Homo sapiens: one gene and its partners. The protein of the gene in region 1 purifies or fractionates together with the protein of each later gene. This does not show direct contact. Each region holds a gene or a part of one and is shown in the gene's direction. Other genes may lie near its edges. The genes, in order: CCNG2, PPP2R5C and NME2.

Region 1 (3,512 bases):
TGATGACTTACATTTTTACTGGTAAGTCAACATCCGTTGGATGTTTTCTGAAGTGGCTCTTTTTGAAGTGATAATAGATTGTAATTCAAAATAAAATTATTAATGAATTCTCCTTGTTTGGGATCACATCTTAATTTTTAATCTGTTAAAAGTTCTTGATGTATTTTAATGAGAAGACTTTAGGTGAGGCTACAGTGATTCCAGAGTGAGCCTTCTAACTGGCTAGCAGAAGTTCTCTAGGTTTGGCATCTGTGCCTTGGAGATACTGAAAGAGAATCTGTCATTTGACAATTGACCTCTTTGTGGGATGGACTCATTAAGTATGCTCTCAGAGACTGGTATATTACCAGAATGCCTATTAATTTTCAGTGAGAGGCAACAGGTATTAAGTAGAACAGAATGCTCAGGTTGGCAGATTAGAACGATCTTTCAGGAGACAAAGCAAGTTTTAATCAGTTGTTTGGTTAATAAGTATGGGGTGTTCGCTGTGATAGGGCCCCGCCAGCTTCTGGCTCTTGTGGACCTCAAAAGTATCAGGTGGTTTTGCAAGTGGTGGTCCTTTCCCCTGCCCCACCCCAATAGGTTCCCCATCTGTCTAGTTTGATTTTTGTAGACCTTTGTTTTCTCTAGTTAGAAAATCAGGTACACTGAATATGGTTTTCATGTAACACCTCTTCTCTGGAGATAGGGGTATGTTTTCCTACCCTTCTAGTGGAGAATCCTACTTGAGGATGACCTTTCCTCTCTTACTAAATAATATTAGTAAATAGTGGGCAATATATTCTGCTTTCAGATTTTGATTTGTTGAGATGTAAAAGTTGTTTGGGGCTTACCAAATCTCAAGACTCTCTTTAGCTCCTGCAGGATTGTATTGCTTTTCTTACTGGATATTTTTCCTGGGTAAGCATCTTTGTGGCTTCATCTCTTCCCCCTGTGGTTTTCAGTGTATTTAGTCGAGACCTCTCTGCTGAGCTTGCAACCTGTTTATTCACATGGCCTGCCATGCCACTTGGAGGTTTCTGATTACTCCCAAACCTGCTGGTTCTTTATGTCTTTCTCAGCGAATAATTCCATCTATTCATGTTGGAAACTTAGGTGATATGCTCATCTCCTTTTGCCTGTTTATGGAGGTCACCAGCCTCTATCATTTGTATGATTTCGTTTACACTGTTTATATCTCTCTGTCCCCCCTTTTTCTGCCATTGGCATGGTTTAGACCTGTACTCTTTATCAGCAGAGGTACTGTAATATATTTGTGATCCCTCAGCTTCCAGGCTTACTCCTGGTCTCTGCCTTCCTATCTACATATCCTTTTAAAATAAAATTTTAACTATCTCCTGAAAAATTGTTGAGTAGGTCACGCACAATCAGGAGAAAAATCTATTCATGACATACAAGTCTCTGTCTAATCTGAACACTGCACCTGTCTCTGGCCTTTTTTTCTTGTCATTTCCTAGACCTTAAAAAATGTGTATTGAGAAAGAACTCTGTTAGCTATACAGAAGATGAACTGGGCAATATAGAGTAGCAGCATGGAGACCAGTCTGACTGAACTAAGGCAGTGGAAGTGTGGATGAGGAAGAGAGGTGAAAATTGAGAAGCGCTATCCTTTCTCTTTGGGCATTATTAGGAGGCTCACAGACAAGTCCAGGAGCCTGGTTATACCCTCCTGTGCCATTCAACCAGGTGGCTTTCCCATGACTGTGATGAATAAAATTGAGAAGCCCCTGCCCTTTTCAGAGCAGAGGGTGAGGAGAAAGCTACCATTTTGTCCTCATCCTTACCCCCGTTGACTTGGCGAGAGATTTGACCTTTCAGGTTTTGATCCTGTCATTTTCTAGGATGTGGTGCACGCACTTTGCTGTTGCGCATGGTGAAGTATTGTGCCTAGGTCCTGGGTCTTCATCTGTTTGGCTCTGCTACTGTTTCCTCCTCCCAGGAAGTGTGGTTAGACAAATAATGTGTTTTAATTACCTGTCACACTCAGGATTAATACATACTCAGGTTAACTGTAGAGAGGCATTGGCTTCAGAACACTCCTCGTGACAATTTTAACCATTTTCTTTGTCTAGAGTCTGCCTTTTTCTTTTTTACAATTTCTTTTATTTCAACACTAGGTTTCAATATGGTGTTCCTGCTACCTCCCACCTCCCTCCTCCCTCATCACACATGCAAATTGTCAGCTTATTGAGACAACCCACTTAGATTCATATATGGACAAGGACAAGGTATTTTGCATTTGTTACTGGAATTCAGTTTTCCTAACTATTTACTACCAGAAATGGTCAATAACTTACTTTGTGTTTAGCAAATCAAATTGTGTGATAGATAGTTTCCCAGTATGATGGCCAGTCAGTCTTTCCATCCCTGTGCCTACATGCTGCTCTTCCCGTCCACAAGTGGAGTCTGTTTCTCTTGAGTTTTGGCTGGCCTTATGAATGGCTTTGCTTACTGAAGTGCAGCAGAAGAAATTTAGTATATGTCCAAGCCTAGGCTTTAAGAGACTGGCAGCTTTCCTTTTATCCTTTTTGGAAGCTAGCCACCATGCTGCAAAGAAGCTCAGCTGGATTACTGAAAGATGAGAGGCCATGTGGAGAGAGACTCTTGAGGATGAGAGATTATCTTGGATGTTCCAGCCTTAAGCTCCCAGCTGAATGTGGGTGTATCCTCAGCTACACCACAGAAAACAGAGGAACTACTCAGTCGATCCCAATCAACCCACAGACTCACTAGAAATAACAAATTATTGTTTTAAGCCACGAGGTTTTGGGGGAGGGTTGTTAAACAGTAATAGATAAGTGAGACAGATTGCTTGTTATTTATGGTCAAATGGTGATTATCTCTGGTGAGATTACAGGTGATGTTTTTTTTAAGTTATGCCTATCTGTAGTTTCCTTTTTTTCCTAAAATTGATTTGAATTATTAGTGTATTAACAGAATAAAGAATGAACTTTAAAACACACACGCTGGTTATATGCTTCCTCTAATTAAAATTCATGGCTCTCACCACACCTTAGCATCAAGTTCCAACTTCGTACTGCGGCTTAGAAGACCCAGCTTGATTTGTTCCCGGCTCCCTTTTCAGCCTTGTTTCATGGCATCCACATCCACGTATTTCCCAGGCCCACTACATCTGAGATGAGTCAGAGACCCCTCTTAGGGGCCTGTTCCCTACTCCCAAACATGGAAATTAAAAAAAAAATCGTGAGTTCTTCCAAGAGAAATTCCAGGCATCTGGCTAGCCCTGAGAAGTAAGAGAGAAATGTGATAAGCAACAAATAGCGGCTCAAAACAATAGCCAAGTAAGTTAGAATCATGGGATGTTTGGTTCCCCTATAGAAACTACAGATAACATCTTAATATATATCCCTGAGTTGTTTTCCAGAAACCTGAACCCCTAGCAAATGGATGCGCTAGCACATAGACCTCAGATAAGAGGGAGCTGAGGACTGAACTCTGACCACCGTTCTTTGTTCTAAATTTCTTCCTGAGAGGCCTGGAGGAGGTCATGC
Region 2 (2,927 bases), on another chromosome or scaffold:
CATCAGTGTTTTCCAAATCAAAGGAACGCTTTAAAAAATAGGACCTATTTTTTAAGACTTTACAGCCTTTGAAATGGTTTCCACGTGATTGTTACGCCAGCAGTTCTCGTTTTGTTTGTTTTTCAATCTCAGTGAAATGGCTCTTTGCTTTCGAGTTCTCACGCAACGTACTGGGCAAATGACAATCCTCAGCCGCTGGTATTTTCTAAGGGGTCTCTTCACTTTGATGAGTGACATGAACACCGTGTCTCCTTCTCTTGTGTGTACCTAAAGCCATATTTCCAAGTCTGTGGTACTCCAGGATTCCAGGAGTAAGCCTGTAGAAGAGATTTATTTTAAAAGAGATTGCTCTGAAATTTATCTTAAAAGAGCTTGCTCTGTCTACCTTGACAGAAATTGGAGTTTTAAAATTATGTGTTAATATTTTTATTTGCAGATTTCGTTTCCGTCAACTTAAACATTGTTGCCCTTCAACAAGGCTCTTGAATTAATAAAATTATAGTCTCTAAGAATTCCACATTTTATGGAAAGTTAGAGCAAAATCATTTTGAGTTAAGCCAGTTCTTAGCCTAATGCAAACTGCAGCGCCTTTAAGCATAAAGTAACACAACAGCATTGCACGGGGCCGGCACTGCCGCTGCCTTCACTGAAGGCTGCAGTGCTGTTCTGAGAGCTTGGAGGAGGCACCAGCGAGGATGACGTTTAGTGGAGCTCTTTCTGTTGAAAAGAGCTCACGTTATCAACACCTTGTAAGGAAAATACAGTGTCTGAGTTTTCATCGGTCTTCACATGCTGCTATATATTCCACAGAGTTCCTTGCATGTACTGAGCTTTTGTTTTAGATGGAATAGCACAAGGAGAAAAATCTTTAAACTTAGTGCTTTGTCTATTCTTTATTTCTCTCAGGGTGGCCAGTATTTTGACTTATTTATCCTGCTTGAAAGCTACTTGAGATGTGTACTGCTATTCTAAACACGTGATCTAGTTTCTTTCATCTCTGGCATAAGATTATATAACTTAATGTTAAGTGTCTTGAGGCATAAAAGACAAAATGTGGCTTATTTTAGGATCTGTTTTTTCATCGAGGTCTCGGGTATCCTTTCAAAGATAGTGAGAAGCAGACACTGCTCCTTGTGCAGCTCTGGTACCTCCTGCCCACTGCTGTCACTTCAAGCCACTGGCAATGCTTCTGTCCTCGTGTCTTGGAGGAAAATCACCTGGGGGGAGGGGACTTCTTGTGGTAAGAGCAAGTGCAGGTATGAAATGCGAAGATTGCCCCAGCTAAAAGTGGACAAGTCCGCTTTGTGAGATGAATACTTCCTGAGAAACTTGACAAGTATCTCTCCATTTTACCATTATGAAAACTATCATTAAAAAAAACAGTTTAGATGCCTTCTCCTTTTGAGGGAAAAAGGGTGCTTTTTATTGTATAAAGCAGCGTCTTATGTATTTTGATATACCATTGTTTGAACTTCCGTCTTTAGCTGATAGATTCTCAAATATCCTTGATTTTGGATGTTCAGTATGTTTGTGAGAGAGGTTTCTGGGAAGACTCTCTTTTTGCCCTCGGGAAAAAGCAAAATATCAATGTTTGGGTGACTGTGTAAAGCTCAGTGTGTAAGAACATCTTTTTGTCTAGGTTTTCTTTCTGCTCTTTATTGAAGACAAACACTCACCAAAAAGAAAAATAAAAGTTTTCAGAGAAACTAATTTTCTTTGGCAAGAGTATTACTTAATATTTTGGCCTCCTAAAGTTTCCCTAGTTAGTACTCGGACTCCTGTGCTAATTGTCAGCTTACATATCATTGTATAGAGACTGTTTATTCTGTACCAAACTGATTTCAAAAGTACTACATTGAAAATAAACCGGTGACTGTTTTTCTTCATAAAGTTCTGCGTTTGGCATCTTCACTCTTTCCAAAATGTATCTGTACATCAGAAATGTCACTATTCCAAGTGTCTTTTTAGTGTGGCTTTAGTATGGCTTCCTTTTAATATTGTACATACATTGTATCTTTGTTTTATGGTAATAAGTAATAAAAATGTAGACTTCATATTTTGTACAAAATGTCCTATGTACAGAATAAAAAAGTTCATAGAAACAGCAAATATAGGTAAGTGGCACAATTATTTTTCTTTAGAAAATATCTGTAACTTTATGCATTAGTGAAATGTTAAGTACCGACATATTTTTTAACATTTTGTAATTCAAAACTTTTTGTTTTGACATTGTTTATGAAGAGAAACTTCATACACTTGCCATTTAATATGCTCTTTTATCTAATTTTCAAAAACTCTAAAAAACGGTGTATCATATGGACTAAATAAAGAACATGTGAATTTTATTGCTCATCATGAAACTAAATTTAGCCATGGTGTTGAGCAAGCTGGCTCTGACGTTATCGGGTTCCCGTTAGGTCAGGGCCGCCCACACACAGGGACGCTGACTGCAGAGGGGCTGGCCATCTCCATCCAGCCCGCCTGGAGCGCTGGCTGCGCCAGATGCTAGCCACAGCTGTTCAAAGCTAAGTCTATCCACTGATTTTTTTACTTACTTAGTGGAAAAGGCAGTGTGACTTTTTATAGACCGCCTCTTGGTTTGGTTTGGGTTTTGGGGCTTTTTTTGAGTAAGAAAAGGTGAATCAATACAATTTATAGAAATGAAAGTCTTGAAAATAGGGAATTGCTGAAAGTATGAATTTAGGATCCTAGTTCGCCCACCTCCTCCTCAGTGGAGAGATCATTATCCTCGCTGATGCTCTTGCGAGAAGCCCATGGAAACAGGACTAAAGTGTTATCTGCTCGTGTCGTGGTTATAACCTCACCTCTCCATAGCTGCGTGTGGTCAGCACGCCGGCTGGCGTGGGAGGGCAAGCTCTGTGCTTAGCTTCCTTCTCTACCCAGTGGCGTCTGTGCTCCCTTCGCAC
Region 3 (2,992 bases), on another chromosome or scaffold:
GCCTGGGCAACAGAACAAGACTCTGTCTCAAAAAAAAAAAAAAAAAAAATTGGAGAGAGTAAAATAGGGAGGCAGTGAAATTGTTGAGAAAGTAGATCTATTTCCTGTTCACCTTTTTCTTCCTTCTGCTGTTCCCTGGAATCCTTACCCTAGCATGTTAGTCTTTCTTTTCCCTCTTCTAGCAGTCTTCTGGGATGCCCTTCCCACTGATCCTATTCCAGACTGGCCACTTTCTCCTTTCTTCACCAGTTCTTCTGTGTTGATGGCTGCATAAGGATTCTGCAACATTGTTTATCTCTGTCTCAGCTAAACTGGGAAGTCCCCAAGTTGGACAGACTTTTCTTTGAATCCTAGCAATACGTTTGGAATGCAGTTTTTATATAGGCCCCTACTCTCTGCTGGGGTTAGCTGATAATCATGTCACTGATCGGTCTCATTGATGTGTCGTGTCAGGTAGGAGTAAATGTTAGACCCTACCTGTCCTGAGTGGCAGGTCTGATTATAAATCCATTTTCACACTTTCGAGGTCTGGGAGGGGCTGAACGTGGTGAAGACAGGCCGAGTGATGCTTGGGGAGACCAATCCAGCAGATTCAAAGCCAGGCACCATTCGTGGGGACTTCTGCATTCAGGTTGGCAGGTAAGTCCGGGGACAGGAGGGTGGATGACTTTTATGCAACACCATTTAAAGCAGACGTCATGGCGTATCCTACTTTCAGAAGAATCTGTGCCCTTTTTTTTTTTTTTTTTTCTTGAGACGGAGTCTCCTTCTGCCTAGCTGGAGTGCAGTGGTGCCATCTCTGCTCACTGTAACCTTCACCTCCCGGGTTCAAGCGATCCTCCTGCCGCAGCCTCCCAAATAGCTGGGATTACAGGTGCACACTGCCACGCCCGGCTAATTTTTGTATTTTTAGTAGAGATGGTTTCACCACGTTGGCCAGGCTAGTTTCAAACTCCTGACCTCAGGTGATCCGCCTGCCTCGGCCCCCCAAGGTGCTGGGATTACAGACATGAGCCACCGCACTTGGCCTGAACTTTTAGTTGGTGATTATCATTGTATAAAAACTTTCAGGCTGGGTATATCATTGTATAAAAGCTTTCAGGCCAGGGGTTTACGCCTGTAATCCCAGCACTTTGGGAGGCCGAGATGGGTGGATCACCTGAAGTCAGGAGTTTGAGACCAGCCTGGAGCCTGGCCAACATGAACCCCGTCTCTACTAAAAGTAAAAAATTAGGGCATGGTGGTGCATGCCTGTAATCCTAGCTACTCAGGAGGCTGAGACAGAAGAATCGCTTGAACCTGGGAGGTGGAGGCTGCATTGAGCTAAGATCACGCCACTGCACTCCAGCCTGGGCAACAAGAACAAAACTCCGTCTCAAAAAAAAAAAAAAAAAAGCTTTCACACATAGCTTCTTCCCTAGGTTACTTAATTTTAAGCAAGACAACAAGGGAGCCATAAGTGGTAATTCCTGTGTAGTACAGCAAAAAATGCTAGGTGTGGAGAAGGGAAGCATTCTAGCCACATCCATGAGTACTTTGTCCATGGGTGTGTCACTTAACCTTTTGATTCCCTCACCTGTACACAGTCTGTTCAAAACCTTTACAAAGTTGTGAGGTTGAAGTGGGATAAAGGGATTTTTATTAATAAGCAGTGTTATGTCATGGTTGGGCTTTGCAAATCAGTGTTATAAGAAAATGCAGCAGAGCTGGCCTATGATAATGAACACATCATATCTAGTTGGGATGTTGATCTGCAGTGGGTTTGAGTATCACTGTATTTTCCAAAATTTGCGGAGGAGTGTTTTATGTCTTCGGCAATCTTGGGGTACAAGCACTCTTTTGATGGGGAGGCCAGACTTGGAAGCATAATACAGTTGAAACAAGGAATGTTTTAAATCAAGCACTTTTACAGTTGTATAGCTGCTTTTAAAAGGAAATGCTTTGGGGGTATAAATTGGTCTGTTGCTTCAAGTGGCAATTTGGCTGAAAGAGTCTGGAGTGCTGTCCATTGCGGTACCCATTAAACAGACTTTTGCACTTTAAAACATGGCAACTTGTAATTGTTTTCTTTCTTAGGAACATCATTCATGGCAGTGATTCAGTAAAAAGTGCTGAAAAAGAAATCAGCCTATGGTTTAAGCCTGAAGAACTGGTTGACTACAAGTCTTGTGCTCATGACTGGGTCTATGAATAAGAGGTGGACACAACAGCAGTCTCCTTCAGCACGGCGTGGTGTGTCCCTGGACACAGCTCTTCATTCCATTGACTTAGAGGCAACAGGATTGATCATTCTTTTATAGAGCATATTTGCCAATAAAGCTTTTGGAAGCCGGACACTGTCTCCTTGTGCTTATTTGATACTGAGCTGAAAGAAGTGACTTGGTTCTCTGGCTATAGTAGCATTATGTACATCTCAATCCTGCTTGTCAAAGAATGATCTGATCCTGACGGAGTTTCGCTCTTGTTGCCCAGGCTGGAGTGCAATGGCGCGATCTCAGCTCACCACAACCTCTGCCTCCCGGGTTCAAGCGATTCTCCTGTCTCAGCCTCCTGAGTAGCTGGGATTACAGGCATGTGCCACCACGCCCTGCTAATTTTGTATTTTTAATAGAGACGGGGTTTCTCCATGTTGGTCAGGCTGGTCTTGTACTCCCAATCTCAGGTGATCTGCCCGTCTTGGCCTCCCAAAGTGCTGGGATTACAGGTGTGAACCACCGCGCCCGGCCTATTTATTTATTTATTTGAGACAGAGTCTCGCTTTGTCGCCCAGGCTGGAGTGCAGTGGCGTGATCTCAGCTCACTGAAACCTCCACCTTCTGGGCTCAAGCCTAGTTGGTCAAGTGGTTCTTGTGCCTCAGCCTCCCGAGTAGTTGGGATTACAGGTGTTTGAGCCGCTGCACCTGGCCACTTGTAAGAAAGATTTGTTGAAACTTGGAGTGAAACATACAGACTAGGGAAATACTCTAGATTTATGTATCTGCTGATTACAAAT

Evidence for each region.
Region 2: the proteins of CCNG2 (region 1) and PPP2R5C purify together in Homo sapiens (affinity purification with mass spectrometry; 3 studies listed by BioGRID and IntAct, with this or other methods). This does not show direct contact.
Region 3: the proteins of CCNG2 (region 1) and NME2 purify together in Homo sapiens (affinity purification with mass spectrometry, with the first as the bait; 2 studies listed by BioGRID). This does not show direct contact.

The regions. Positions count from the first base shown.
Region 1 is NC_000004.12:77,167,099-77,170,610, forward strand, and holds the end of CCNG2 (cyclin-G2), read left to right. Parts: 3' UTR 1-2,962; downstream 2,963-3,512. UniProt on the Homo sapiens protein: May play a role in growth regulation and in negative regulation of cell cycle progression.
Region 2 is NC_000014.9:101,925,633-101,928,559, forward strand, and holds the end of PPP2R5C (serine/threonine-protein phosphatase 2A 56 kDa regulatory subunit gamma isoform), read left to right. Parts: 3' UTR 1-2,345; downstream 2,346-2,927.
Region 3 is NC_000017.11:51,169,411-51,172,402, forward strand, and holds the end of NME2 (nucleoside diphosphate kinase B), read left to right. Parts: intron 1-526; coding exon 527-639; intron 640-2,076; coding exon 2,077-2,194; 3' UTR 2,195-2,334; downstream 2,335-2,992. Other genes in the region: NME1-NME2 protein, read left to right, coding at 527-639, 2,077-2,194. UniProt on the Homo sapiens protein: Major role in the synthesis of nucleoside triphosphates other than ATP. The ATP gamma phosphate is transferred to the NDP beta phosphate via a ping-pong mechanism, using a phosphorylated active-site intermediate.